Linked DNA regions of Homo sapiens. The protein of the gene in region 5 purifies or fractionates together with the protein of the main gene of each other region. This does not show direct contact. Each region holds a gene or a part of one and is shown on either strand. Other genes may lie near its edges. The genes, in order: MYH14, TPD52L2, ERC2, LRRFIP2 and SDCCAG8.

Region 1 (6,196 bases), on a different chromosome or scaffold from region 5:
ACTTTGGGAGGCCAAGGTGGGAGGATTGCTTGAGCCCGGGAGTTTGAGGCTGCAGCGAGCTGTAATTGCGCCACTGCACTCCAGCCTGGGTGACAGACTGAGACTCTGTCTCTAAAAAAATTAAAAAATTTAATAATAATTTAAAAAAACAGGATGTAAATGCAACATGGTATCCTAGAAAAACAAAAAACAAAAACCCAGGATGCTTTTAGATGGTGAGAGCACCTGTGAAGGGGAGGTTTTGTTGGTCAGGAAAGTCCTCTCTAAGGAAGCTCTAAGGATGAAACATTCGAGATGAGACCTAGATGGTTCGAGGCAGACGGAACCGCAAGTGTAAAGGCCCTGGGGGTGGAGCAGGCTTGGGGAGTTGGGAACATTAAGCAGGTCAGTGAGGCCGGGTGTGGGGGCTCATGCCTGTAATCCCAGCTCTTTGGGAGGCTGAGGCGGACAGATTGAGCTCAGGAGTTCAAGATCAGCCTGGGCAACATGGTGAATCTCCGTCTCTACTAAAATACAAAAATTAGCTGGGTATGTGGCACACGCCTGTAGTCCCAGCTACTTGGGAGGCTGAGACACGAGGATCACTTGAACCTAGGAGGCAGAGGTTGCAGTGAGCTGAGAGCACGCCACTGCACTTCAGCCTGGGTGACAGAGCGAGACTCTGTCTCAAAAAAAAAAAAAAAAAGAAAAGAAAAAAAGAAAATTGAAGGAGGTCAGGTCAGTGAGGCTGAAGAGCAAGGGAGAGAGGGTGGGTGAATCCACAGTCAGAAATGTCAGCAAGGGGCAGATCATGCAGGGTCTTAGGGGCCACAGTAAGGAGGTGAGTTTTATTCAAACTACATAGGAGGCCATTGAGGTTTTAAGCCAGGGAGTGACTTGATTCAGTTTGTCTTTCATAGAAAGATCCCCTTGGCTGCTGCATGGAGAATTGGGTTCAGGGATGCAGGTAGAGGCGGGGAGACCTAAGGAGGCTGCATCCAGAGTCTTGGCAATCGTGGGAGCTCACACCATGAGCAGGGAGGGTGGAGTGGAGCGACCACAGGCCAGGGAGGGTTTCAGAATCCAGCTTTTGGGCAGAGGCCTCTGCTGGCCCCAGGCTGGGCAGTGAGGTACCTGGATGAAGACCCCGTGGGGGAGATGAGGAGTCTGGGAGCCACACTGACCCGGGTTCAATCTCAGCTGGGGTACTGTTGTTAGTTCCCATTTTACAGAGGAGAAAACTGAGGCACAGAGAGGTTTATTCACATGCCTGAAATCACACAGCCCCTAAGTGGCAGAGCTGGGATTCAAACCCAAGTTGTCCGGCTCCAGAGTCCACGCTCTTAACCGCTGTGCGGTAGAAACTGCTTTGAGGGGGTGAGGGAAGGATTCAAGGGCTAACACATCCGAGCCCGTCATGTAGTACCTGGTGCGCAGTAGGACTTCAGGAATGTCTGCCTGTTGTTCATGGCATTGTTCTTGATGGTACTTACACTCAAGGAGCTGGGAGGCGACCTTAAGGGGGACGAGCTGGGGGCCCTTCCCCGGTTCACCCCCGACGTCTTTCAGTCTGCTGATGTGCAGGCTGCGCCCTTACCATGAGCCCTGTCCCACAGGCTGACTTCGCGCTGGAGGCCCTGGCCAAGGCCACCTACGAGCGCCTCTTCCGCTGGCTGGTTCTGCGCCTCAACCGGGCCTTGGACCGCAGCCCCCGCCAAGGCGCCTCCTTCCTGGGCATCCTGGACATCGCGGGCTTTGAGATCTTCCAGGTCCACCCTTGTGCTGGGAGGGGGATGCCAACTTCCTCACTCCGGTCCTGGTCCTTTCTGAAGCCCTGGGTCTCTCCCCTTCTCCCTGGTCTCTGTCCCCCTCTCTCTCTCTGAGTCTCTGTTCCCCCCTCTCTCTGGTCTCTGTCCCCCTCTCTCTGGGTCTCTGTCCCCTGTCTCTGGGTCTCTGTCCCCTTCTCTCTCTGGGTCTCTGTCCCCTGTCTCTGGGTCTCTGTCCCCCTCTCTCTCTGGGTCTCTGTCCTCTCTCTCTGCATCTCTGTCCCCTGTCTCTGGGTCTCTGCCTCTCTGTCTCTGGGTCTCTGTCCCCTGTCTCTGGCTCTGTCCCCTGTCTCTGGGTCTCTGTCCCCCTCTCTCTGGGTCTCTGTCCCCCTCTCTCTGGGTCTCTGTCCCCTCTCGATGCATCTCTGTCCCCTGTCTCTGGGTCTCTGTCCCCTGTCTCTGGGTCTCTGTCCCTCTCCATCCTCCCAGCTCACGTGTCCTGCGTCCCTGCAGCTGAACTCCTTCGAGCAGCTCTGCATCAACTACACCAACGAGAAGCTGCAGCAGCTCTTCAACCACACCATGTTCGTGCTGGAGCAGGAGGAGTACCAGCGTGAGGGCATCCCCTGGACCTTCCTCGACTTTGGCCTCGACCTGCAGCCCTGCATCGACCTCATCGAGCGGCCGGTGAGCCCCAGGCCCCTCCCAGCCCACACTCACGGTTCAGATCCGTCTCTCCCAGCATCTGCGAGACCAGGGTCTAGCTCCTCCTCTGCTGGGCCTCAGGATGCCCCATGGGTTCTGTGGGGAAGGTGACAGCACCTGCTTCCTCGATCTTTTGTGACCATAGGTGATTAGGGCCCAGAATGTGCCTGCCACAGGGCCCGGCTCAAATCAATCGGTTAATCAGAGCTCTCACCGTAACTGTTGTTCTCACGTTTGTTTTTTGTTTGTTTGTTTTGTTTTGTTTTGTTTTTTTCTTGAGACGGAGTCTCGCTCTATCGCCCAGGCTGGAGTGCAGCGGCGCGATCTCTGCTTACTGCAAGCTTCGCCCCCTGGGTTCACGCCATTCTCCTGCCTCAGCCTCCCGAGTAGCTGGGACTACAGGTGCCCGCCACCACGCCCGGCTAATTTTTTGTATTTTTAGTAGAGTCGGGGGTTTCACTGTGTTAGCCAGGATGGTCTCGATCTCCTGACCTCGTGATCTACCCGCCTCGGCCTCCCAAAGTGCTGGGATTACAGGCGTGAGCCACCGTGCCTGGCATCTCACGTTTGTTTTTATGTCCAAGTGTGACTTATAAGAGCTAAAAATCAGCAGCCACCTGAGTGTCCAATATGTGGGGATCTGACTTACTCTCCCCCTGCTGTCAATGGCCAGGCCAACCCCCCTGGACTCCTGGCCCTGCTGGATGAGGAGTGCTGGTTCCCGAAGGCCACAGACAAGTCGTTTGTGGAGAAGGTAGCCCAGGAGCAGGGCGGCCACCCCAAGTTCCAGCGGCCGAGGCACCTGCGGGATCAGGCCGACTTCAGTGTTCTCCACTACGCGGGCAAGGTAGGGGCTGGGGCCGGCCTTGGGGCATGTGGGAGTGGGGATCAAGGGATCTCCACTGGCTACAGATGGGGGGAGGGTGCAGAGGGAAAACAGGGTCCTCCTGAGGTCCAGACAAACAGAGCAGGGGCTAGGAGAGCCCAGGGAGGAGCAAGGATTCTGTCTGATGGGATCACCAAAAACTTCCTCAAAGAGGTGATATTTGCAGTGGGTTTTGAGGGATGGGTAGGAGTTCATCAGGAGGCGATCTATGTGCATTTTATCCACTTATTCAGCAGATATGTGCGGGGTGCCATTTGTGTGCCCAGCTCGGGGCCGAGCAAAGCTGGATACACAGATCAAACATGGTTTCTGTCCTCACAAAGATCCCTATCTGGGAGGGAGGCAAATACAGACGATCAGGATATAAGGTTAATAGGTCTTTCAGTGGAGGCAGCTGAGGGTAGTGTCAGAGCCCAGAAGAGAAGTACCTGGGAAAGCTTCACAGAAGAGAATATGCTCAATCTCAAATCTCAGTCAAGGGCCGGCAAACATTTTCTGTAAAGGGTCCGATAGTAAATAGTTTCAGCTTTGTGGGCCAGACGATCTCTGTCACAGCTACACAATTCTGCTGTGGTCACACAAAAAGAGCCACAGATAATACATAAGTATCTTCAAGCCCCCAGGGAAAAAGAAAGGAAAAACAGACTGAGAAACAGTTTCGAGGGCTCTCTTGCCCCCAGAAGGGCCCCCATGAGTTTGACTATGAAGACATAAATGAAGGTTCTATTCCTATATATATATACACATATATATATACACACATATATATATACACACATATATATATACACACTACACACACACACACACACACACACACACACACACACACACACACACACATATATATATGTATTTTTTTTTATTTGAGACAGAGTCTCCCTCTGTTACCCAGGCTGGAGTGCAGTGGCACGATCTCGGCTCACTGCAATCTCCGCCTCCTAGGTTCAAGCAATTCTTCTGCCTCAGCCTCCCCAGTAGCTGGGATTACAGGCACCTGCCACCATGCCTGGCTAATTTTTGTATTTTTAGTAGAGACAGGGTTTCACCATGTTGGCCAGGCTGCTCTCGAACTCCTGACCTCAGTTGATCCACCCGCATAGGCCTCCCAAAGTGCTGGGATTACAGGTGTGAGCCACCGCGCCCAGCCCTATTCCAGTGAAAGTATTTGCAAAAAGAGGTGGCAGGCTGGATTTTGCCTGTGAGCCATAGTTTGCTGACCCCTGGTTTTGATGATGTGGACCAGGCAGCCCCAGAGGATGGGTGAAGGGTGGGAAGGGCTCTCCAGGCAGAGGGAACAGCATAGACAATGGCTGGGAGGCAGGAGATTCCATGTGTTCTGTGTCTAGCCCTCAGTTTCTTCCCCAGACATACTCCAGAACTCCCCCTGTACCCAGCCCTCTGCTAGGCCGTGAGTCAGACCTGGGCCCTGCCCTCGGGGGACCGCTGTCTGGTGGGGGGCACATATGCAGAGAATTGTAGCGGCCAAGATCGTGACTCTATGGAGCCCCACAGCAAAGCCCTGAGTACCCAGAAGGAGCCAGTGGTGTGAAACCCACAGAGACAGAACCCCAGGTGGCAGGAACCGCAGGGGTAAAACCCCGAGGTGGGAGTAAGCTCGCATGTTTGAGGAACAGTGCGGAGGCCAGGGTGGCTGGAGCGGAATGAATAGGAAGAAAGTGGTGGTGGTGGAGGTCACAGAGGTGGCAGGGGGCATAGAGGGGAAGGAGAGAGAGGGGACCATGCTGGTGGGGTGCAGTTCAGAATATGGACACAAGGTGGCACCAGTGCTCGCTTGTCCATGGTGAGCTCCAGACCTGGGAGTCTCAGAGCTTCTGGAAGGCTCCTTAGGAAATCCAGAGAATGTCTGAGCCTGCAAGTCATCGCCCTCCTCTACCTGACTTCATTCAGGTCGACTACAAGGCCAACGAGTGGCTGATGAAAAACATGGACCCTCTGAATGACAACGTCGCAGCCTTGCTCCACCAGAGCACAGACCGGCTGACGGCAGAGATCTGGAAAGACGGTGAGGACCCACTTCCCCCACCCCGGCTCTAGGGGTCTGTGCGGCCATTCTCCAAATCCACAGCGTGAGCACCTTTGTTTCAGAGGCGGAGGTCTGAACCTGAGTTTTCTGCTCAGACCCAGAATAGCCAGTGTCACAAATAGTATTTCAAATCAGTGATGGATGGATCCATAGATTAATTGATTGACTATTGATTTGATTGATAAGCCAGCATCCTTCTCAAGGATAAAGCACTCCGCCTTAATCAGAAACGTGGCAAAGATACCCACTAACACTACTGTTAAACATCGTTTTTTTAGCAATACTAGCCTATGCAATCAGACCAGAAAAAGTATGAATATCGAACAGGAAGAAGTAAACTTATTATTTTTAGATGGCCTGTGTTCCCTAAACAATTAGGAGATTTGGCTGGGCATGGTGGCTCACACCTGTAATCCCAGCACTTTTGGGAGGCCAAGGTGGGCGGATCACTTGAGGTCAGGAGTTCAAGACCAGCCTGGCCAACATGGTGAAACCCTGTCTCTACTAAAAGTACAACAATTAGCCAGATGTCCTGGTGCATGCCTGTAGTCTCAGCTACTAGGGAGGCTGAGGCAGGAGAATCGCTTGAATCTGGGAGGTAGAGGTTTCAGTGAGCCAAGATTGTGTCACTGCAATCCAGCCTGGGTGACAGTGTGAGACTCTGTCCCAAAAAAAAAAAAAAAATTCTACTGAGAAATAATTTATAACAATAAGAGAACACAGAATGATGATCTTTTGCAGGTCAGTCAACTTTTAGGCTTTGCTTTCTTTGTTTTCTTACAAAGTTCCCTTCACGCCCCCAGGGAAGAAGAA
Region 2 (6,196 bases), on a different chromosome or scaffold from region 5:
AAAGAGTGGGGATGGGGAAGCTGCACCTGCATTTGTGCCCTAAGAGTGGGGATGGGGAAGCTGCACCTGCATTTGTGCCCTAAGAGTGGGGATGGGGAAGCTACACCTGCATTTGTGCCTAAAGAGTGGGCATGGGGAAGCTACACCTGCATTTGTGCCCTAAGAGTGGGGATGGGGAAACCGAAGTTGGAGAGAAAACAACCGCCTGTGCCCGGCCTTCAGAATGAGATGTGGGGTCCTGAGCGTGACCTGTGGGTGGGTAAGTACCACCCACACAAGGAGGATCGGAATGAGATGCGGGTCCTGAGCGTGACCTGTGGGTGGGTAAATGCCACCCACACAAGGAGGAGGGTCCTGAGGGTTCCTGGCCACTGACCACTGGCCACTGACACCCGGTGCCACTGTGATCAGTCCCTGCTGTGCCATAAACCACACTCAAGCCCCTGGGGGCCCCACAGCCCTCAGCATTGCTCGGGTGTGGAAATGAGGGGGTCACAAGGGAACCTCCTCTAGAAACAGGAACCTCCAAACTGGGATGGCCCTGGAAACAATGGGCATCACCTGCATAGCCTGAGGCCACCACCAGCGCCTCCCTGGCCTTCTCTTCCTACAGCAGGTCCCTGCCCAACAGCTGTGGCTCTGACCTCTCCCTTCCCCTTCTCAGTCCCATCCTGGGCCTCCAAGGTGGCGGCAGCAGCTGTGAGGCCCCCTTCCAAGGCTCACAGCGCTGCAGGCCTGTTCTGAGAGCGTCAAACACACAGGCACACACATTCCTCAGTGGACCAGAAGGCTGGGTTGTTATTACTCCATGACAGATGGGGAAGCTGAGCCCGGGAGGAAGGGGCAGGGGTCAGAGCCAGCATCTGCACCCAATAACTAGCTTCAGCTCTCCTTGAGAGCACCGGGCCGGGCAACCCCAGCCAGCACCCATTTGGGAGTTCCTAAGACCTTCTAGGAAGAGAGCCCTGGACAGACAGCGGTTTCGTCCCACTGCCAGTGAGCTGTCCCCTGGGCAGCACAGGGCATCTGGGGGACATCCTTGCACTCCCCCTCTCCTGAGTCTGTCTCTGGGGGCTGCCCCCACTCCCACTCAGGATGGACAAGTGATCCAGGCCTGGCCAGAGCACACCACCTCCAAGGCCGCAGCCATTAGTCCAGGGAGACCCATATGGGGCCACACTGTTGGGCTGCAGCAGTGGGGGCAGGGACTTCTCTGCCTGGTGAGTGCTCCCACCTCCCTGTTTGGTTGATGCTACCTTGAGTCGTGCTTTCTGTCACCTGCAACCAAAACAACTCCAAGTGAACCAGCTCATAACTGCAGGATCTATATGATGCCCCTCTCAGCACTGAGGTTTTTAGTTACCTCTGCCTATAAATAGAATGCAACAGGCAATTGTTTCACCACTCGCAGAACACAGCTGCTCTCGCATTCAGACATGACCCACTGAGAATGTGGCCGCATTGCAGCCTCATGGGGCCAGGCACCAGTGCTATCCTCCACCCACCGGCCACGTTCTCCTTCCCGTCCATCCTCCAGGGCGCCAATAGCTGAAAGGATCTACAAACACGTGGGTCAGGATGCAGGGAGCTTTTACTGCCTTCCCCTGCAGAGCTCTGGGCAGTGGAGGTACATCTACAGCCCATCTCCTGAAGCTGACTAGGAGAGGCACCAGCCAGGAAGAGCACGCGCCATGGCCACATCCTCAGGCCCCACCTCCCAAGCCGCATCCCTTCCGTCTGGGCCGTCCCGGCAGAAACCACCGCCCTCGGCCTCGGCCGTCCCGGCAGAAACCATCGCCCTCGGCCTGGGCCTTCCCACCAGAAACCATCGCCCTCGGCCTGGGCCGTCCCGGCAGAAACCATCGCCCTCGGCCTGGGCCTTCCCGGCAGAAACGCTTCCACTCTGGAACCGTCAGTTGACAGCTCTCGCCACAGAACTCAGGGGAATGGCCTCGGCCAGGTGATGCACTGGCCATATGCTTCCATGCTGAGCCACAGGTTTCTCCAGAGGGGTCGGGACGCTGAGTGTTGTAATAAGCTCTCTAAAACACTATTTATTTGAAATAGGATCCCGGCAGCTTTATGTCAGTTGGTTTTACAAAACAGCACTGAAGTCTCCTAAGACTATTTTCAGACTGAGTCTGCACTGTGCGTCCGCCTGATGCCCAAACTGCAAGGATGACCGTCACTGTCCCAACCTAGGAACCATCTGCTGCCCAGCAAAGTCACTGTTCAACAGCCCGAGACACAGCCCACCAGGGTCCCTAGAACACCCTGCTCAAGCCGGGTGCAGTGGGTCACGCCTGTCATCCCAGCACTTTGGGAGGCCGAGATGGGCGGATCACGAGGTCAGGAGATCGAAACCATCCTGGCTAACACCATGAAACCCTGTCTCTACTAAAAATACAAAAAATTAGCCGGGCGTGGTGGTGGGCGCCTGTAGTCCCAGCACTTTGGGAGGCTGAGGCAGGCGGATCACGAGGTCAGGAGATTGAGACCATCCTGGCTGACATGGTGAAATCCTGTCTCTACTAAAAATAGAAAAAATTAGCCGGGCGTGGTGGCGGGCGCCTGTAGTCCCAGCTACTGGGGAGGCTGAGGCAGGAGAATGGTGTGAACCCGGGAGGCGGAGCTTGCAGTGAGCCCAGATGGCGCCACTGCACTCCAGCCTGGGAGACAGAACGAGACGTTGTCTCAAAAAAAAAACCAAACAAACAAAAAAAACCCAGGGCAACATGCCATGAACCACCCGGGTCCCCAGAGCACCCAGATGTACAGCTGGCTGCTGTAGCCATGCCCACAAACCGCCCGGGTCCCTGGAATACCCAGGGCAACATGCCGTGAACCGCCCGGGTCCCCAGAGCACCCAGATGTACAGCTGGCTGCTGTAGCCATGCCCACGAACCACCCGGGTCCCTGGAATACCCGGGGCAACATGCCGAGAACCGCCCGGGGTTCCTGACACCAGCCTCCCACCGTGACACCAGACGCAAAGGCTCCATGTGCACGCAGTGCCAGCCTGGTCCCCCAGGACCTTCAAGACAAGCTCGGCAGCAACTGCTTCCTTTCAGACCAACATGGGAGGACTTTCTGCCCATGTTCTGTGGCAACGATTACAGCGCTTCCTTCTAAATAACAGATGAAAAAATCCCACAGAGACTATTTAAAAATATTCCCCTCCTCAGTTTAAAGACGTTATAATCAGATCAGAGCACAAGTAAATGAAGTGCTATTATCTAGTTTAAGGATCTCCAAATATTAGGAGTCACTCTGAACAACACCACTGACACACACATACAAAACTATCCACACTTGATCCACACTGGCTGATGCTCTGACAATGCAGTGCCTCCCAGATCGTGAGGATTTCAAATTTCCACCAGCATATCCTACACCATGCCCTCCACTCAAGAACTACCCCTAAAGGAGGAAAGGAATTCTGAGAACCCAACAGCTGGAGCTAAGCAGGGAAAAGGGTTAGGGTTAGAACAAACAAAAATTCGCCACCAACAAACCCAGGCCAAGTGGTGTTGTCCAGCTTGTGCACTGCCGGAAGCCAAGGAGCTCTATTAGTTAGAGATACAGCCAGGACCAGTGCAGGCCTCTTACATAAGGGACGCATATCAGGCAGAGGGGAGTTTTAAGTGTGGTCAGGTGGCTGAGTGAGTTTCTCTCAGCTACTATTCCCTGTTCCACAAAAGTTTAAAGGATAGTTTACCTGAGAGAAGAAAAGTTATAGGAAGAAAAAATAGCCAGCAAATACCAAAACAAGCTTTGTGCCAAGTGTGCACAGCCCCCTTCCCCGACTGAGTGTCAGGAGGCGGAGAGGAGGAAGGAGGAGGTGCTGATGATACAGGCACTCACAGGTCTGACTGGGTCACTTTCTCATTCCACTCTCCAAGTTTCTCAGAAGTTTTCACATAGCTAAAAACAGAAAGTCTACAGTGAATTATTTAGAAGAACAATTTTAACTCAGGCATCAAACTGCAGGTGAAGTTCCAGGGAAGACAGAGAGGGACCAGCTGGCAGGAACATCAACTCCACAGACGGCCCAAAAATGGGGTCCACTGCCTCAACCAGGCCCTGTGCAGGCCCCAGGCCGCCAGGTGAGCTGTGGGTATAGCGGAACTGATGTTCCCTTTTCTGTCACCTGGCAGTAGCCCCTGGTCTCTCGCTAGGAGATTCTTGGGCAACAGCACTGCTGTGGGGGACTGGAAGGGCACAGCCCACAGCTCCAAAACACCCTTGGGATTCAAAACTTACGATGTCCTAGGACAAAAACATGGGCCTCTCATATGTGAGATTTATGAAATGTGACCTGTTCTGTCTTTGTATAGGAACATGTCTTCTGGGAAACATTCCACAGCCACCCCAACCTTGAAGGGTATGTTTCAGAGAAGCCACGTGGACAGGGCCAAGTGAGAAAGCAGCACTCCCCAAATTCAGAGCTGAGCGACATCTGGGACAGGTGTCCCAGGGTTATAGGACCACGTCGTCATGTAGGACCACGTCGTCATCGGGGAGGGTCAGAGTCCCTAGGGTTGTGGGACCATATGGTCCTATATATAAATATATATATATATATATTTTTTTTTTTTGAGACAGAGTCTTGCTCTGTCACCCAGGCTGGAGGGCAGTGGCATAATTTTGGCTCACTGCAACCTCCGCCTCCCGGGTTAAAGAGATTCTCCTGCCTCAGCCTCCCTAGTAGCCGAGATCACAGGTGCGCACCACCACGCCCAGCTAAATTTTTTTATTTTTTAGTAGAGACAGGGTTTCTCCATGTTGGTCAGGCTAGTCTTGAACTCCTAACCTCAAGTGATACACCCGCCTCAGCCTCCCAAAGTGCTGGGATTGTAGGCATGAGCCACCATGCCCGGCCCATATGGCCATATCTGGGTCAGAGGCTGTGACCATGCCACACCCACAACAAGGACCACAGAAAAACCGCTCTTGCCAAGGACCTGATCAGTGCTCTCTCAAGTCTGGACCCTGAAACAGTCTTCCTATCATTTTCCACCAGGACAACTAGCCAGTGTGTCTGCCTTTTTAGAACACGTATATAAGCCGGATGTGGTGGCTCACACGTGTAATCCCAAGCATTTTAGGAGGCCAAAACAAGAGGATTGCTTGAGCCCAGAAATTTGAGACCAGCCTAGGTAGCAAAGCAAGACCCTGTCTCTATAAAACGTGAAAAAATTAGCCAGGCATGGTGGCGCACGCCTGTCATCCCAGCTACGAGGGGGGTTGAGTTGGGAGGATTGCTTGAACCCAGGAGGTTGAGGTTGCAGTGAATCATGATTGCGCCACTGCACTCCAGCCTGGGTGACAGAGCGAAACCATCTCAAAAAAGAATAATAATAAAAAAAAAAAAAAGGCCAGCGTGGTGGCCAGCACTTTGGGAGGCTGAGGTGGGTGGATCACAAGGTCAGGAGTTCAAGACCAGCCTGGCCAACATGGTGAAACCCCATCTCTACTAAAAACACACACACACACACACACACACACACAAAAAAAAAAATCAGCCGGGCGCGGTGGGAGGCGCCTGTAATCCCAGCTACTTGGGAGGCTGAGGCAGGAGAATCGCTTGAACCCGGGGGGCAGAGGTTGCAGCGAGCTAAGATCACGCCACTACACTCCAGCCTGGGCGACAGAGTGAGACTCTGTCTCAAAAAAAATAATAATAAAGTACACAAAAACTTAAAAATAAATAAAACACATGTAGACACCAAGCTTTTTGAACAAACAAGGCACAGTCGCTGGGCCAAGGGCTCAGAGCCTCTCTCTGGATCCTTCCAAACAGGCCACTCAACTCCACGGCTGCAACTCGTCCCTGGGCATGACGACGCCCCCCCACATGCCGGGGCACGTGTGGTGCCCGTTCTCTTCAGCCCCCAGGGGTGCGCCTGGGGCAGGTACCTACGCGCTAGAGACCTGCACGTCATGCCAGCTCCTGGACAGGTTCTGTTTCAGCTCCCCCAGGGTGGAGAGGCCCAGCCTCCTCTTGAGCTCTCCACAGTGCCTCTCCTTGGCTGCCAGGACCTGGCGCAGAGTGACAATTTCCTCTTCCACCTGCAAAGCATGCAGTTGACATGATGAGCCATCACTACTGCAGGAAGTGACTAACATCCTCATGCACAGTGCCATGAGTTACACAAGAACTTTCCGCTTACCAAAGCATTAACTCGTCCTAGGA
Region 3 (6,196 bases), on a different chromosome or scaffold from region 5:
ATTTGACCTGTGTTTCCTTGTCCTCCCCATCCCTTACCCACCACCCCCCTGATTATTAGTTGTAGTAGTTGCGGATGCCGAGGCCACTGGCTTAAAAATGAAAATGAATCTGTGTAAAGAAGGAATTGGGGGAGGGGGTGTTAGAATTGCCCACCTATTTCTCCAGAATTGCAGTCTTTATAAGAGACAACATGTACCGTTGAGCTATCCGGGAAAAGGGTGTGGCACTTTGTCTCCTATGGTCACTCTTGTCCTTGTAAAGTCACATTGTTTCTCAGTATACAGTACTTGGGGCTTGGCTCTACTGGATGGATTTATAAGGTATTTTTGGAGCCGGCAAACGTTCTTTATGGGGAGTCACATGAATAGAAGGGATTCTTTTAGTTCTGACAGTTAACTCAACTTCTGGAAGTGAGGGCTGCCTTGTTCTCTTTTGCAGAATGTCAGTTCGGTGGTGGTGGGGTCAAGCCATTTTCTTTCCGGGGAGTAGTAGAGTTTGCCTTTTTCTCATGTAAGCCATCTTGTCTGTTTGCTTCTGTGCTTTAATAAAATACTTTTACAGTTTTGGCAGGGAGGGGTGTGGAAGGTGATGGTGTCATGGTTTTCACCAGCAAGACTTTCACGGGTGGATGAATCATGGGTGAAGGACCAGATCCATCTCAACTCACTACTAGTGAAAGCCTGATTTTTCAACACCCTTCTCCCTGAATTCATTAGAAAAATTACTGATTGATCCAAAGAGCTGTCACTTTATAGAAGTTGTACCTGGATGTGAACATAATTCTGTGAATTAAGCCTTTCATAAACAGACTGTGAGCCAGAATATACTGATTAGAATGGTTTTCATGTAGAAGCCGGGTTTGTCAAAGCAGTATTATTACTATTACTATCATCATCATTGTTATTGCATAGGCAAGCACTTTGTTGAGTACTTTATATGCATTATCTTTTTTAAACCTTGTGGAGCCCCTGTGAGGTAGGTACTATTCTTACGCCCAAATTATAGATGAGTAACTAGAAGGAATTCAGTATCTTGCCACAGTTTAGTATGAAAGCAAGAACCTGAGCCCGGGTTCGTCTTACCCAGAGCCCATGACCTTGGCCGTGGCCTTGACTTCAAATTTTGGTTGTGTAGTCTGCATGTGTCCAGTCTGAAGTGTGGGTTCTCCCAGCATACGTAGAGCTAACCATTTTAAGAGTCCACTGTGATTCTGACAGTCCTTTTATCAGCCTGTTTTGCCTTTGCATTTGAAGGCTGTGGCATGGGCCAATAGGCAAATTTAGTAACTCTGTTTATTATATATTTCCAGTAGAAACATAATAAAATATAAAAAATATAACACATAATAAAATAAAAATTTTGGCTCGATAAAAATTTGGTTCCAAACTTAATGATGATGACTTAAAAGAAGGTAAAACAAAACAAAATTCACACTCTTCCATTTTTCTTGACACCTTAAATTTCCAATTAGAGTTTTAAATAGATCTTGGTTGAATAAATGCTCTTAACATCCTTCAGTTGTCTCCCCACCAAGGGATTAGGGTTTTATTTTCTTTGTTATTTACAGAGACCCTTTTCCATTAGTGATTAGGTATAATGATATTTAAAATTATTCTTTTGTAATAGCATGACCGTCTTGTTTTATTTTATTTTTTATTGTTTTTTGAAATGGAGTCTTGCTCTGTCACCAGGCTGGAGTGCAGTGGCGTGATCTTGGCTCACTGCAATCTCTGCCTCCCGGGTTCAAGTGATTCTCCTGCCTCAGCCTCCCAAGTAGCTGGGATTACAGGTGCCCGCCACCATGCCTCTCTAATTTTTGTATTTTTAGTACAGACTGGGTTTCACCATGTTGGCCAGGCTGGTCTTGAACTCCTGACCTCAGGTGATCCTCCTGCCTTGGCCTCCCAAAGTGCTGGCATTACAGGTGTGAACCACCATGACCGGCCCCTCTTGTTTTGTTATGTTGGAAAAGCTACAAGATGTAAGCCTTATCAGTCTCTTCCCATTGGTGAAACTCAGTGGTGAAGGTTTGCCAAAACAGGTATCCTGAAAAATAAGGTGAATGGTATTGCAGTCCACAAATTTACCTAAAGAGTCTTTGACTTTGGTTAGGTTGACTTTTGTACAATCTGCATTTGCTTGTTTTACTAGGACACCCTCTAGCCTTTTTTTTTTTCTTTTTTCTTTTTTTAAAATCCTCTAACCAGTTAACATTTTGGCTGGTCCGTGGGGCATCTACTTGCCAGCCAACAGTTTCAGTTTCAGCAATGTTTACACTATTCCTTTATATTTTATTGTGATTTTCTTAGTTTAGAAAGATAGGATGAATGGAAAGCACAGAAAAGCACCAATATTCATGGTAATGTAGATCTCATAAATTTAAAATAGTTGATCCAAAGGTAGAACTCACTGGATGTACAAAACATGGAGACTCTACAACCTCTTCTTCTTATGTGAAGAAAAGGAACAAAATGAATGAAGATATAAGACATGCTAACATATATCAAATGATAAGATATATTAGTCAGCTTTGGCAGTGTAACAAAACTCCCTGACTTACAGCAACAGGTATTTATTTTCACACTCATGGGTCTTCAGGTTGACCGTGATTTGGCTGGTATAGGTTGGGCTCCTTGGGGTGGCTGTGTAGAGGCTGTGGGTTGGGTTCCAGTCTCCTCCACATGTGTCCTGGGGCCCAGGCTGAAGGGATGGCAGCTACCTGGGGCATGCTTTTCTCCTGGCAGATCACTGGAGCCAAGAGGCAAACTACACGAGCAAATGTCACTTTCACTAATAACCTGTTTTGGAAAAGTACTATTTTGGACAACACTTGTCTGTAAACGTAGACTCTGTTCACAGTAAGGGAGCGAATATTTGATGAACTATCATCCAGCTTCCAACAGCATGTAAAAATTATGGTTAGAGGATTTTCTAATTTTTTCTTTTTCTTGGGGAATGCAATTTTCATCCCCTCACTCCCATTGCTAGCTGCGTGACATATAAACCTGGTCCTTAACTTCTGCATTTCAGGAATATTCTCTGTTTGATTTTAGAGGGCTGGCTATAAAACAGGTTTGTGTATACACATGAATTACTTAAATTATTAAGGCACTATTTATTAGAACCTACTGTGTTCCAAGAGACAATGTTCAGTGCAGTGGTGAACACAGTTTTATTCTGATGTGGGTCCTGCCACCATGAAACTTATCATTAGGAATAGGTGTAAGGAAGGACTTCTTGGATGCAATGGCATTTTCCTGGACCTTAAAGCAGGGAGAGAGTTGGAGATGCAGATAGAGCAATGGATACCATAAAAATGTAGGGGCACACATGGATATAATGAGTTATTCCACTTGGCCAGAGAGTAAGAAAGGTGAATTACAACAACAATAATAATTATAACACTAGTATTTATAGCTTAACTTCTATTGGGCAGTTAACTATGTGTTAGGCACTGTGCTTAGCACTTTCCATAAGATATTTAATATTGGGTAGGCTTGCTGGTTGCCTACCCAACATTCATTTTCTCCTTTCCAACTAAAAGAACCCCAATTTTGTCTGAGATGGAAATAAGCCCACCTCACCTTCCCAAGACTCCCTTGGACTTAGAGTGGCCATGAGAGTTGGGTCTGATAATGGCATAGGTGGAAGTTTTTGGGTGGAGGCTTTCCTGAAAATGTAGTGAGTGAGACACACGTGGGTGGTATACTCCAAGAACTTTTCAGCTCTTTAACTTCTTGCTGCTGAGATCATTGGTGCAATGCCTGGAGGGGCAGCAGCCAACTACAACAATGAAGATAAAGCCATGGTTTTTGTTTTTTTTTGTTTGCTTTTGAGACAGGGCCTCACTCTGTCACCCAGGCTGGAGTGCAGTGGCACCGATCTCAGCTCACTGCAGCCTTGACTTCCCCGGCTCAAGTGATTCTCCCACCTCAGTCTTCCCAGTAGCTGGAACTACAGGTGCGCACTACCATGCCTGGCTGATTTTTGTATACTTTTGTAAAGATGAGATTTCCCCATGTTGCCCAGGCTGGTCTTGAACTCCCGAGCTCAAGTGATCTGCCTGCCTTGGCCTCCCAAAGTGCTGGGATTAGAGGTGTGAGCCACCATGCCCAGCCAAAATCGTGTCTTACAAATGGCAAAGCTGGAGCCTGGAAGGATCTTGGTCTTGGTGACATCGTTCATTCATAGTACCAGCTTAGACTGCCTTCCCCTGTAGTTCTTATTGCATAAAACTAAAAAGCTCTTTACTTGTAAGCCACTACTTATTACTTGCAGCCGCACATACTCCTCACTGATACATACCTTCTCAAGAAAACCCTCAAAGTAGGTGCTATCACCTATTTTGCAGGTGAGAACATTAAAACTTAGAGGGGTTAAGGACTTGCCCAACCAGTAAGTAGAAGCATTGGGGGTTCAAAACAACATCATTTTGACTTTCAGGATCATCATCTTGCCTCTGGCTGTGCAGGACAAGTACCATAGTGGAGATAATGTTGGAAAATTAGGCTGGATTAAGATTTAGGAGGCATCTGGATTCCTGGTTGAAATATTTGAGTTTGATTTCATGGGCTAGTGAGTATAAAGCCATTGAAAAAGACAGAGACCAGAGGTTGGGAGACCACTGAGGCTTGAGTGCATGACATACATGCTTTAGTACGAGTGAAGGTGGAGGGAAAACTGGGCATGAAACAGAGCTGGGGACATGAGAAGATAATGGAATTGAGTGAACCCAAATCATAGTTGCTGTTAACCTATGATCATCTGAGAGCAAAATGAAAGTCTCCTGAAGGCTAGTATTCACTTCTACTGATGGCTTCACATTTGCCCAGAAGTAGGGAATGAGTAATGTAGAGAATTGCTAATGAGATATGAATCACTATTTCATGCTGTGGGGTGGGGTCTTCTACTCATTGTCAATACCATTTATTGAGCCCTTGACGACCTTGTATTAAATGACTTTGGTCTGGGTCTGGCTCCACTGTGCCAGTTAAAGGTAGCAGAGATGAAGGGTAAGGTCAGAAGGTGCTGCAGTGGTACATTAGATTCTGTCCATGGACTTATTTCTGCTAAACATTCTAGACCTTCCTTGAGGGGTAGATTGGGGTTACTTTAACTGTCTGTGTCTCCTTTTTTTCTTCTCTTTACTTTTTAAATTTGTAAAATAAAGGATTTGGTTTACATTCATAGTTTTCAAATGTTTTTCAGCTGTTAAAACTTTGTTTCCTAAATAAAAATTTATCTGGACCCTCAGTATATTTATAGAAAGCAGAGCTGTTCTGGAAATTTAGGGTCCAGATTTATGTTGTATGAAGTGTCTTTATGTTGAGGCCACTGCTCTAAAATGACACCTACACACCCTTCCTGGTTCATGATTATGTGAATCTTATAGCTGTTCAGATGTTTTATTTGTGCATCATCTTTAACAAATCCCTTTGTTATTCCACAGGTTGTGTCTTAATATCATCTGTGGTAGAGACTGTTAATGTTCCCCATAGCCACTTTTTCTTTCCTTCCAGGCATATGTTGGAGGTGGCTTGCATCACTTCCATGCTAGAATATTTGATTTCCAGTGTGAGAGCACCCAGTGCCCTCTTCTACTGCAATGATTACGGAAATGTGTGTTGAGATGGAGCCCTTCATCTGCCTGGGCCTTTCAGTCACTAAATGAACACAGCTTCCCGTCAACTGGAGTTGGACATATAGACCAAGAAGTAAACTTTGGTTGTTTTAAGCCATGAAGAGTTTTGTGATTTTTGGTTTCTGCAGCACTTTTCTGCTTATCTTTACTGATACACCATCTTTGAGCACATCTGCTAAACTTTATGTAACTTACTTTTTGGGTGCCTTCTGGATTAACCTGAAGCCTGGCCAGCTTGTCCTTACTTTGTAGTTAGGAAAAGAGTGGGCTGGCATCTACATCCGCTGTCCGTGCTGGTCTCTGTGCTAATAGATTCTTTGAATTGAAAGCTTTATGCTCAATAACATTTGTTTTCATGCTTAAAAAGTTCCTGAAGACATATTGTATAGTGCACCTCACTGTTCTTTAAAAAAAAAAAAAAAGCCTTTATGCCATCTTGCTTTTTTTTTTTTTTTTTGTATTTTTAGTAGAGACGGGGTTTCACCGTGTTAGCCAGGATGGTCTTGATCTCGTGACCCCGTGATCCGCCCGCCTCGGCCTCCCAAAGTGCTAGG
Region 4 (6,196 bases), on a different chromosome or scaffold from region 5:
ATTTCTATAGAGAAGCAACTTTATTTTTGGGGAAGTGTCTCTCCATGGTAAGTGACATTTTACTACTACACAGTTTAAATGCATACTATTACGCATTTTAGAAAATTTTGTAACAAGATTTTGTTACACATGCAATAATAATATTTTTTATTGTGTTTTCTGTTAGTTTCAGGATAATATAAGAAAAGCATGCGGTACAGATATTTTGCTCCAATAAAATTGGTATTTATTACAATAACATTTTCAATGAATTTATACCAGTGGTAAAATGGTACCACTTAGTCTGATACTTATGGAATTTATTTTTTGAGGTTTCTGCAATGTTTTTTGTAAATGACCATTTCATTAGGCATGAATGGAAGGGCTTTATTCTGACTGAACTATTATTTTAATGTCTTATTAGAACTAGATTATATACTTTGATTTTCTAATATATTTTAAGCTTTTTAAAAATTGTGATCTCTACAACAAGAAATACATTTTACACCATAAGTCAGTATACACATGAAGATTCATGCATGTGGATTTGTATATATGTAAAAGTATAGAAAATACATTATTGAAACAAAAGTTTCACAAAATAATATTTGCACTTACTTTGCACAACACCCTCTAATATTTTCTCTTCTAGTTTAGTTTTTAAAATGCTGGTTGAGGGCAGGGTACGGTGGCCTCTGCCTGTAATCCCAGCCCTTTGGAAGGCTGAGGTAGGAGAATTGCTTGAGCCCAGGAGTTCAAGACCAACCTGGGCAACATAGCAAGACCCCATCTCCTAAAATTAAAAAAAAAAAAATTAGGTAAGTATGGTGGCATGTTCCTGTAGTTCTGTAGTTCCAGGTACTTGGGAGCCTGAAGTGGGAGGATCACTTGAACCCAGGAGTTCGATGTTGCGGTGAACTATGATCAAGCTATTGTACTCCAACCTGGGCAAAAGAGTGAAACCCTGTCTCAAAAAAAGCTGGTTGACCCTACTAAGTTGATTTTATGAACTACTGATGAATTGCAACCTATCCTTATGAAAACGTTACTTTAGATTGGGTTTTTGAATAGTATTGCTTAAAATTTTAAATGAATATAAGAGTTGGAAAAGAAAGATATTTTTATCAAACAATTAGTATTTAAACTACCTGAGGAACTTGTTCATTGCTTTTATTTGTTTTGTATATGACTTTCTGGGTAGACAGCTTAAAAATATAAACTAGAATGCTTAAGAAACGATGTGTGAAAACCATAAATCTATGTAGTTACTATTTAGTTTTTCTTCCCTGGATTTGAAATGTGGTATTACATATCTTACTTTTAAAAAGGATCCTACATGAAATGTGGGTGTTCTGGTCTTACGAGTTTTGTATATTTTTCTTTGATTTATATTCAGTGTCACACCTGTATGTATACTGTGCAGTTCACACATTGACCAGATTTCTCAAAATGAGAAATCGGCATTTTCTTGAGGAAGGACATTCTTAGGTGTTTGTTCACAAGCAGATCCAAGGGAATGTTCCCCATCTTGGTGCTGCAATTGTTCTTTTGTAAGCTTGACCATGCTTGTTATGTCAGCTTGCCTCATTGCCTGTTCATCCTTTGCTTTTGCCATTTTTCAAACAATAGGAAATGATGTTAAAAGTGATAATAATTTTCTTAAAAAGCATTTTTGACTTTAGAATGCTTAATTCTTGTATTTAAAGGCTCCCTTAGGATGTTTTGTGCTATAGTGTACTGAGATTGAATCATATCACTATTACTGATTATGAATTTTGTTGTTTAAAAGAAAAATAAACATACAGTTTTGAATATACATACAGTTTAGCAATACTTTATACTAGGAAAAAGTAGGAGGAAGAATATTTTTTAATTCAACTGGATTAGCTTTCATGTTTAATAATTTTTTATTTTAAAATAGTGCTGGATTTTTAAAATAACCTCAAATATTACTTCTTCTCTTCTTTATATTTCTGAATTTGGAAACAAACCAACTTTCATGTTTTGCTGAAACCCAGTATGATATGTTCAAGGATAGATCATCAAGACTTTCATCATTAGTATGTAGCACATGACTTTGTGTTATATGTGGAATTTTACTTTATAAACATCTGTTGATGCTAATTATAGAATATGACTAACTTTCATGGCTTTGTTATGAACTTTTGGGGAAAATGTGTGACTAACAAAGCAAAAAGCTAATGTTTTGTGGTTGTGGCATGAATAGTAATTTTTTTCTTTAGGATTTCAGAATTAGACACAAGTTATTCTTATCTATTGAGGACTAGGATTGGTAGTAATATCTTTTTTTTTTTTTTAATTTTAAAGATGGGGTCCCTCTCTGTCAACCAGGCTGGAGTGCAGTGGTGCAATCATAGCTTACTGACTGCAACCTTGAACTCCTGGATTCAAGGGATCCTCCCACCTCAGCCTTCTGAGTAGCGAGTACTATAAACATGTGCCACCATGCCCAGCTAATTGTTTTATTTTTTTTGTAGAGATGGGGTTTTGCTATGCTGTCCAGGCTGGTCTCGAACTTTTGGTCTCAAGTGATCCTCCCACCTTGGCCTCCCAAAGTGATGGGATTACATATGTGAGCCATCATGCCCAGCTGGTAGTAATATATCTTTTCTTAAAATGATGAGCCACCCACCTAACATATACTCATTGTCATTCTAACACTGTTAGAAACTTGTCTTCATGTTGAGCACAAGCCCAAATTGTGTTTTATGTCATATGTCACAAAGCTGGCAGGTGTGAAGTTGCTAGATAGAAAACATCCAGTAGTGTTAGAGGACACCTAAGACATCAGTTATGTCCAAACATTTTGGTTTGATTTGGTTAGTTTTTTATGGTATGTCATTAACCAAGGAATTTAAGTTATAGCTTGTTTTTCTTGGGTTAATATTTTGTCAATAGGTTGCCTGAGTTTCTAAATTACATAGACATCTCTTAAAATATTCAGAGTAATGTATAAAAAGATGCATATTCAAAAAAAAAAAAGTAAAATGAGTTTTTAATCATTGATTGGGAATACAGCTATATATATGTGAGATGGTTTACCTAGAGCAGTCTGTTGCCTTTGGCTCTTGATAGGTAGGGCACTTCTAGCCACACTCTCTTATTTCAGGCAAGTAGTACGTACCTAGATTAGATTTCTTATCTACCAATTTACCTATTTAGTAGTATTGCTAGCCTTAATTTCCCCATATGTACTTGGCTGTGTACTCCTAGGAAAAGTTAGGTATTGAGACAATCCTGTCTTCAAGGGACCCTTTTATAAGGTGACCATTTATGGTATGCTGGGCAATCCATACCATGTTGGTTGTTTTCCTCCTGAGCATTACATACTGTGGATTCACTAATTTGGGTTAAGAGTACTGTCTGGGACAGTTTAATGTCATGTTCTTTGTTCTCTCAGTCCTGTTTTAATTGTTCCAAAAGATTGCTTTTTGACCTTTAGGTAAGGAAGACTATAGAAGGAAATGAATTATCTTGTTACCTATACCCTTAGCCAGGAGTGGTGTCTCATGCCTGTAATCCCAGCATTTCAGGAGGTTGAGGCAGGAGGATCACTTGAGGCCAAGAGTTCAAGACCATCCTGGACAACATAGCAAGACATTGTCTCTACCTGTTCCCCCAACCCCAAATTAGCTGGGTGTAGTGGTACATGCCTGTGGTCCTACCTACTCAGGAGACTGTGGCAGGAGTCCAGGAGTTCTAGGCTGCAGTGAGCCATGATTGTACCACTATACCCCTGTCTGGGTGACAGAGTGAGACCCTGTTTCTATTGAAAAAGAAAAAAAAGAAGTCAGAGGGACTCAAGTGTGGTGTGAAGGTCTCCACAAATATTCTGCCTGGTTCTTAGTTCTAATCAAGTTTTCTTTAGCTGGCCAGACACACAGATGCTTGGCACAGAGGGAGGTGAGGGAGGAATGCAGATGTGTAGAGAGGCCAGGTAGACTAGCTAGTAAAGTGCAGTGAATTGTTTACTAACCTTTGGGAAATAAATTGCATGTAAACTATTGTGTATCTCATATAGACCTTTGTGTATATAATTTGAAGATGAATTTTATTATTTTCATAACTTCGCTATGCAATCATTGAAGTTAACTTGGAATATTTACTTCCAGAATCATTCTTACAGTCACTCTCATGGAATGAAGAAGAGGTCTTCTGATTCTCATAAAGACCTACTGGTTAGTTCTGTTGTCTCTCATATCACAATTCACGAAGTACTGTTAGGAACTTAAGGATTATGATTGCTTTGGTGTGCTACTAGGACATTATTGAAACTTGATAATCTGCTGAAACATGATTTATCAGAAATTTAAAAATAATTTTGTTTTCATTTGCAAGTTTTAGTATTAACATATGCAAACCCTAGCAGCCAGAGTTAGTACTATATCACAAGAAGCTCATTAACAAGTATTTTCATTTATTAATTGTCCTTTGGAATATACCTCAAGAATAGGTTTAGTAAGATTCTCATCCTTATTTTAGGAATTTGAATTGATTTAGTTGTGGTATTATGGGCCGTAACTAAACTCACAAATAGGTTTCATTCTAAAAGTTTGTGTTTTGGGAACTTGGAATGCATTTTCTAGTTTCTTCAATAAATATGTAATGGCAAAGTTTCCATACTAGCTTGCTGAAAACTCTTTAACCTATAATGTAATTAAACTGCAGAATTAATATACTCTTTATTCTAGTCACTTTGTGAAACAACACTTCTTTTTTCTTTTTCTTTTTTTCTTTTCTTTTTTTTTTTCTTTTTTTGAGATGGAGTCTCGCTCTGTCTCCCAGGCTGGAGTGCATGGCGCGATCTCGGCTCACTGCAACCTCCACCTCCCAGGTTCAAGCGATTCTCCTGCCTCAGCCTCCCAAGTAGCTGGGATTACAGGCATGTGCCACTCTTCCTGGCTAATTTTTGTATTTTTGTAGAGATGGGGTTTTGCCAGGTGATCTGCCCGCCTCTGCCTCCCGAAGTTCTGGGATTACAGGCATGAGCCACAGTGCCCGGCTGCTAAACAAATTTCTGTGAGGAAAATAATGTCTCCAGAATGCCCACTTGGTACATTGGAAACACCCATTTCCTGTTAGGCTGCAACAGTACTGGCAAAGGAAGTGCAGTCCCAACTCCTTGCTAATTCAGGGTTCCCATGGGTTGAACGGGGAGAGGGTTGGAAGGCTTTGGTTGGTACAAGGGAGGAGAGAAGGGAGAATGTAATGGGGAGGAAATTAACGAGAGGCCCTGGAAGGTAGGGTCTTGGGATCTCTGGGGAGAGGTGAGCCTTAGGTGCCTAGTTGAGGGTGTGAGTGGGGAGTGAGGAGCGGTGTGGGAAGGCAGGGCTAGGGGTGGTAGGGATGGGGTGGGAGTAGGGATGTCCTCAACTCCACTGTCAACACTGATGGAGTCTTTAAGTCAGAGATTGCCTAAATTTGCTTAACCTTGAGTAAAAAAGTTGGCTAGAGAAGTTGGGAAGGGAATTTTATAGATGGTTTTCTCTCCCTCAATTAGCTATAATGTGTACTATTGTTTATTTTGTACATTGTATAAATGAACCTGCCGTAAGTGTTTTAGATCAAACCATATTTATCGTACTCTCTCTTTCATTTTGGTAACTTAATTTGTCAGTTTATTTTGACAAGTAATGGGACTAGGAAATGTTTGGAACCAAATACATAGCTCTTTAATAACTTCTGTGGCTTTGCCAGATGGATTGTAAAACTGGTAATTATTCAGTTGTCCAGGAGTGTTCAAGGACTTTCTTAAGTATGGCATGAGAATAAATTGTTTTCATTCCATTTTCTCTGAGGGTTTATTGTCTTGTTTTTAAATTTAAAAATTTAGTAATGTCTTTGTTTTAGGGGCTTGAAATAATTGTCACTTTGACTTAATGTGATATGATGATTTAAAAACATTTTGGAGAAGAAGGGATTTGGCAATATCATATTTTGCCTTTTTGTGTTCAGTTTTGCCTTTGTGTGTTGTTAGGTTATTAACATTTAGCCTAAGAAAAATGTGTTTAATTTTGCTTTTTGCAGAGTGGCCTCTACTTTGACCAGAGAAACTATAGCAGTCTTAGACATAGCAAACCCACCTCTGCCTACTACACTCGGGTTTGTCTAAACTTTTTTGGCTTTATGTGTTTGATTCACTTTTAACATATTTCTAATCTCCCCATTTTGCATTTTGACTAGCTGTAACTAATCT
Region 5 (6,247 bases):
TAGTATTTTTACACGTATATGATAGGGATGAACATGATTTTCCTTCGTACAGACAGCTTAAATAAAGCACTATGTCAATCTGCTACTTCTCTGTTTATTGTTGTTGGATGTGGTTCTATAATCCCCCCAAATTAAATCTTCTTTAATGAAAACATGATTTTTAATAGCCCCAGCTGGTATTAACCTACCTTGTATAAAATGTGACAGGAAAATATAGAAATAATTCCTTGTAGCTCACACACACACACATAGGGGATCATTTTTACTTCAGTGAAATGGCAGTAGTGCGGTTGTGCAAACTTTGATGAACGGCTGCTTCTGAGGGGAAACGCTGACCTCTCAGCACTGGATTTAGGATGGATGTACTGTGAAGCCAGGGATGAAGGAGGTCTCAGACCCTGGGGACATTCAGACCCGAATCATCTATACAACACACGGTTTGGACCCAGAATCTGAAGGAATGTAGCTTTTCATTAACGTCTTCCTGATAATGTACTGCTCTGCATATTTCCTTTCTTAGAGTGTATTTCTAACAACATGTCATGGCAAATTAACAAACTTAGACGTGGGTGATGTAGATGGGTAGGATGGCTGGACTGCAGTCTGACTTCACGTTGAATCATTCTGGATGGGGCCTTTTTCTGATTTTACCTCATAAAGCTACTATTGTAGAAACTTGGCTTTGCTCCTGTGACGAAGCCAGACAGAGGAATGGCTTTTGGGACCAGAGTGAGTCAAGCATGTATGTGTATGTCACACGGCCAAATTTGAGGGCATTCTCACATGTGCTCTTCTCTCAAAACCACTGGGGTTGACAGATCCAGGAGGCTAAAAAAAAGTGACCTCTATAATTCTTTAAAGGTGCTATTTTTAGAATATTGTATAATTTATTCACAGTATATCTAAAACAGAATTAAGGACAATTAAAATATCTTATGTGACAGCCTTTATGTCTAGCACATTTGATGAAATAAAAAACTTCTGAATCTGAATAGAAGTTCTACTGTTTCAGGCTTGAACCTTTTACATGCTCAAGAGATTCAAATGGTCTCTGTGTGTAGATCATGCCACCGCCTCCAAAGCCTAATCCACATCACTTCTGAGAGGCAAGGCTGAGCATATGGTGACATCAGCTCTGTGTTGAGATGGTGATGAGGATGATGGCTCGCTGGCCAGGCAGGGCAGCCGAAGGTCAGGGACCTGTCCTAACTAACTGCAGCCTTGCCTTTAGTGTTTGTCATTCTCAGATACAACACGGTATGTCCAGTGTCCGTTTTTATTACTTTAAAGCATTTGAGGGCTTAATTGTGTATAGTAGAAATACTATTTTAGACAAATAATTATCTGTGTACAGATATTTGATATACTCTAAGTAAATTTTCTAATTTCACTAAGTACGTTTTTAGGCTCCTCTCAAATACTGCGTATTGAAGAAAAAAATCTGACACCACCGAGCCAAAGATGCTTTTTTGTCTGTTTTCGTTGTTTAACAGAATGGAAAGAGTAATGCATAGTGCTTCCTGGTGTCTCCTGATTGATTGATTGTGCACAAAGTAGGACGATAAATAAATAAAATGGAGTCTGATGGGACATTGATTAAAGGTGAAGGATGATTGATATATAGATCATGAAAAGAAAAATGAATGGCAGGAAAAAAAGTTTGGTCCTTAATATACTTTGGCCTAGTTAAAATATGTGCCTTTTTGGTGTGTTTTGTTCATCACTACAAGATAAAAAGGAAACATTACAACTCAAGTCTTTAAAAAGTTCATTTATTGAAAATCATATGTATAACCTAGCATACGAATGAGCAGATTTAAACACATAACTTCAAGCCATTTCTGAAAACATACACCAGGAGCTCTGCTCAGCTAGAGTCAGACTCCAGCTCCAGCCCGACTGCGTGCGGGGACAGCGCCCGCGTTGATGAGGACCAGCCCCACTGCAGGCTGAGGCGGTGTCACCCTGGGAAGGTCGTGGTGCGTTGTGGCATATTAAGTCTAAACCAGATGAATGTAAATATCTCTTTGTAAATCATTTATTTCACTCTGTTCCATCCAGGTCAGCAATCAGATTGTGGCATGCTGGGTAACTGGAAAAAATAATAAAAAGTAAGTTTCAATAGCTCATGTTCTTCAATGTTATTTGTCTTCTCATTTGCTGGTTTAGTCACCTTTTATGATGAAAACTGTTGTTGGAGAAAAAAACCTGTTGCTAAAAATGTGGAAATTATATGAAAAGTTTGTGCCTCATCTTGTCCACATCAAAGCCCTTCACATATGAAATAAGGTTAACTGGTTTAATGGGTTAAATTTGAAGACAACCTAGACAAAAGACACGCCTGCCTCTTAAATAAGGACAGTCTGGTGTTAGGACATGGCCAGAGAGCCATCTCTTCTGTCCGGGAAAGGACACATTGATTTGTGCCATAATCTGTTTACTGAAAATTTATCTGACCTTAACGGCAGGTAATTCTAGAACAAAAACAGGGTGTAGGCCAAGTGCCCCTAAGAAATTCCTCGTGAAACAATACAAGCTGAAACACCTCCAAATTTGTAACTGCAAGCAATTTATTGTAACCTATGAAAAAGTACTTTCACATGGAAACCTCACATGTGTTGGAAGAGGGGATTGGGTGTACTGAGGTCTCTTAGTTTTACGCAGATACAAATGTTCCAAAGTAGCTTCATGCAGATCAGGTTGGGGGAGAATCACAAGTTCAGAAAGTATTGAATACTGTTCCTGGCCTCTGCTGCCATGGCTGCCCAAATTAGTTTAAACCACATCAGGAACTAGAGTCAGAAGCCACTGGAAATGTTTCCACTCCACAAAGCATGTCTGGAGTTTCTACTGTGCACTGTGTGGGAAGGTGACTGGGCCACAGTCCTCGCCCTCTAGATTGTGAAGTCCAGAGAAAAGCCAGGATGGTATTTTCCAAATCCCGGTTTCTACGTCAGATAAATTGGGACGCACTGCAGGGCCAGGGGCCCAATCTGGTCCCTCTTTCTTTAGTTAGGAACCATCTTCCAAAAAGAGAAGTGGGCCTGCCCCTCTCCAGTGAGGATTTTCCAAGCTGGACTCCAAGGGAGGACTCTATCAACCTAATTTAAGCCATCATTAACATGGGGATTTCCAAGACAGGGCAATGAGTGAAACTGAATCCGCATTCAAGAGAAATATATGAACATCAGCCTGTTGCCTTTTATGAAAAATGAGAAAAAGTAATGTTTACATTTCAAGTAGATTTCCCAGTGTGTGAGAGACCCTGAGGACAACTTTTTCTTGAACAGGTCTGTGAGTAGTGGGGTGGTCTCAGCAGGGTAGTTAGAGTAGGTGGGGGGCCTGGCCTCAGGCTGAATGCAGGTGGGGCTCCGGCAGGAGGCCTCACTCCTCCTCGTAAACCTGCCATCCCATGCACACAGCCCTCCCAGGCCCGTGGAGCCAGGTGGACAATTTCCTGGGCCCACGGGATGCTTTGTTCTCCAGGCCCTGTCTGAGTGGCCCATGAGGAGTCCACCCCATGCACTATGCCCTAGAGCCCTGCCATTGCAGAGGGGACTCCCTTCTGTCCTCAGTGGGATACTGACAGCACGGAGACTGCCACCAACACGATCTGATTGTCAAACGCAGGGTTTGCACCAAGCTGACGTGCCCTCCAGGCCAGGTGATCGAACTGACCCAGCACAGTCCTGCTAAATGACTGGTTTGAATGGCCCTCCACCCCTGCTCCATGGATTGGCCACATAAGGCAGGTGGCCTGGTGGCCTCGCTCTTGACACAGTGGCTTCCTAACTTTAGAAATGCTAGGATGACTGAATACAAAAGGGATAAGCATAAATCCCAACAGATAACACTTCAAAAGAAAAACAACCCAACAGTGGCTCACACCTGTAATCCCAGTGCTTTGGGAGGCTGGGGCAATAGGATCGCTTGAGTCCAGGAGTTCGAGACCAGCCTGGGCAACATAGTGAGACCTCATCTCTACAAAAAAAATTGTAAAAATTAGCCATGTGTGGTGGCGCACCCCTGTAGTCCCAGCGACTCAAAAGGCTGATGTAGGAGAATTGCTGTAGCCCAGAATTCAAGGCTGCAGTGATGAATTTTGGGTAGAGAACACACCCACGTACACACAATACAGAATAGGCGTAAAGACCTGAAGTAAAAGTAAAATGTGTTGCGGAATTTTTTGATAAGCTCCAGGAAACAGGCATTTCTCATGATGAGTCTACATAATGCCTGTGGGCTCCCAGGCCACCTAGCAATTTATCACTATCGGAGCTGTTCCAGAAACGGGTGACCTCCTGATTCCGTGGGCCTGCATGGGGGTGACACAGATGTACGGGCCTCACCAGGAACCAATCAAAAGTCAGCCTGATTCCTTCCTGCGGCAGATCAGCCATGGCCATCTCTATGGGCTTTGTATTTCCTGCGGTTCAGGTGAGAAGCCCCATATCCATCCCCACTTTCACACTGTTGAACTTACCGTTCACTGCTCAACGCCCCCCCCCCCACCCGTGCCTACAGCCGTGCCTGACCCATGGTGAGCGTTCAGTCAGCACTGGAGGGCTGGATAATTTGTCCTAGGAGGTCACCGTTTTGTCGCCTCCATTTGCTGACTCTTTGGTAACACACATTTCTCTGACCGAGACAGAAGCCTTAGTTACTGCCCACATCTGGCTTGTCTGCCATTAGGGATATCCACGATGCTTATTTCCAGGAAGTCCTGTCATCAACACCACAGTGATCATGGTCTCGTCCAGGAGAGTAGAGCGTGCGTATGCCAGTGGGACATGAGCCCTCAGCCAGTGTCTCCCGTCCTTCTGCCCTTCCATTTGTCATCATGGCCCTTGCTGTGGCCCTCCTGTGGCTGTCCTGCAGCTCAGAGGGGGGCGACAGGGCGCCCTGGCCACTGCTCCCCTGCCGTGCTGTCCACAGGTGGTGGAAACGTGCCCCCATCTGCAGGCACACAGCTGCTAACCCATTTTCTTTGTTCTCATTTTAAATCCTATCGGAGTCATCTCTCCACAAACCCTGCCTCATTTATTTCTAAAGTTTGTTAAGTTCTGAGTGTAAGAAATCAGTTGCTCTGGGTGACCTGAACTGTTCCCCAGGCAACCACACTGTGGGGTCCAGCCAGCCTTTGCTGCTGCTTTGTTCCCAAACCAGCCAGAAGTGGCAGCCCGGGGAGATGGTGGCACCCCTCGCCCCTGCTCACAGGAGACCTGCCCGGGCTTCGCACTTCACTGTCTCCGTGGGTGGCTCTAGCCAACCCTTCTGAAGGTAACAACCCCTTCCCCCCCTGCTGTCCGCTCTGCTCACTGGCACGCTGTCTCTGTTTGGCCAAGTCAAAACGTGGTCCTGTTCCTTGTGTGTCTGGCAATAAAGCATCCATTTGTAACTGGAGAGGGCAGGCCCCTCCCCCTACCTCCATCTGGGGCATTTCAAAGCTGGCCCTGAGTTGACAGAGCTCCAGGGCAGCCCCTGCCTCGCTTGGTGGCTCGCCTCCCGCCTCCGCCTCGTGTTCTGGGCACCGGGGCCAGGGCTCGGCAGCTGTTCCAGCCAGGCCCGGCTCCGCCCGCACCCGCTCGGGTACCTGCCCCCATCCACACATCCTGTGGCCTGAGAAGAAGTTCATTTCCCTGCCCAGCCACTTCCCAATTCCATTCACTTCATTTCTCTGGGCCTTATTTTTCTATCTGTACAAAATGGTTATTTATCTCAAATGGCCCTTTCAAGCCCACAATGATCTCAGCACTAATCCTGTTGGTTTCATAATCATCTGTGCTGGGCTCTGGGTAATATGAGGCACTTCCTTTTAAAGGGAAGCTGGTTCTTTCTTTTTCTCTGCCAGAAATCAAGTGACATGAAAGCTAACACATGTCTCTGAAGCAACGCAGAGCTGAGATTCGAATCCAGGCAGTTTGACCTCAAAGTCCAGACTCTCCCATGCGAGGCTCTCCTGCTTGCTCTGGCAGATGAGGGGCAGCCAGTTTGATATCTACGGAATTAAGCTGCCAAATTGGGAAGGCAACCTGGATGAAATAAGCCACGTGAGCTCTGGCTCGCCACCAACGCACTGAGGAGAGAGGTGCCCTCAGCATGCTGGGCAGAACGTCGGGGAAACGCGGCCTTCGAGCAGGACCGCCCACCTGTCAGAAGGGAGCACTCCTCTACAGAGCCGAGGGGCAGTCAGCCACCCTCAGGCCCCTGCGGCCCTGCTGTCCCCAGCACAGCGACTGAAGTTCTC

Evidence for each region.
Region 1: the proteins of SDCCAG8 (region 5) and MYH14 purify together in Homo sapiens (co-immunoprecipitation; one study listed by IntAct). This does not show direct contact.
Region 2: the proteins of SDCCAG8 (region 5) and TPD52L2 purify together in Homo sapiens (affinity purification with mass spectrometry, with the first as the bait; one large-scale study listed by BioGRID). This does not show direct contact.
Region 3: the proteins of SDCCAG8 (region 5) and ERC2 purify together in Homo sapiens (co-immunoprecipitation; one study listed by IntAct). This does not show direct contact.
Region 4: the proteins of SDCCAG8 (region 5) and LRRFIP2 purify together in Homo sapiens (co-immunoprecipitation; one study listed by IntAct). This does not show direct contact.

The regions. Positions count from the first base shown.
Region 1 is NC_000019.10:50,247,392-50,253,587, forward strand, and holds part of MYH14 (myosin-14), read left to right. Parts: intron 1-1,595; coding exon 1,596-1,748; intron 1,749-2,258; coding exon 2,259-2,432; intron 2,433-3,123; coding exon 3,124-3,297; intron 3,298-5,247; coding exon 5,248-5,362; intron 5,363-6,196. UniProt on the Homo sapiens protein: Cellular myosin that appears to play a role in cytokinesis, cell shape, and specialized functions such as secretion and capping.
Region 2 is NC_000020.11:63,873,544-63,879,739, reverse strand, and holds part of TPD52L2 (tumor protein D54), read right to left. Parts: intron 6,073-6,196; coding exon 5,924-6,072; intron 3,925-5,923; coding exon 3,865-3,924; intron 1-3,864.
Region 3 is NC_000003.12:56,460,868-56,467,063, reverse strand, and holds part of ERC2 (ERC protein 2), read left to right. Parts: intron 1-6,196. UniProt on the Homo sapiens protein: Thought to be involved in the organization of the cytomatrix at the nerve terminals active zone (CAZ) which regulates neurotransmitter release. Seems to act together with BSN. May recruit liprin-alpha proteins to the CAZ.
Region 4 is NC_000003.12:37,110,897-37,117,092, reverse strand, and holds part of LRRFIP2 (leucine-rich repeat flightless-interacting protein 2), read left to right. Parts: intron 1-1,997; coding exon 1,998-2,039; intron 2,040-4,112; coding exon 4,113-4,178; intron 4,179-6,027; coding exon 6,028-6,102; intron 6,103-6,196. UniProt on the Homo sapiens protein: May function as activator of the canonical Wnt signaling pathway, in association with DVL3, upstream of CTNNB1/beta-catenin.
Region 5 is NC_000001.11:243,495,601-243,501,847, reverse strand, and holds the end of SDCCAG8 (serologically defined colon cancer antigen 8), read right to left. Parts: intron 2,125-6,247; exon of another isoform or gene 2,106-2,124; coding exon of another isoform or gene 2,093-2,105; coding exon 2,063-2,092; coding exon of another isoform or gene 2,062-2,062; 3' UTR 1,757-2,061; downstream 1-1,756. UniProt on the Homo sapiens protein: Plays a role in the establishment of cell polarity and epithelial lumen formation. Also plays an essential role in ciliogenesis and subsequent Hedgehog signaling pathway that requires the presence of intact primary cilia for pathway activation.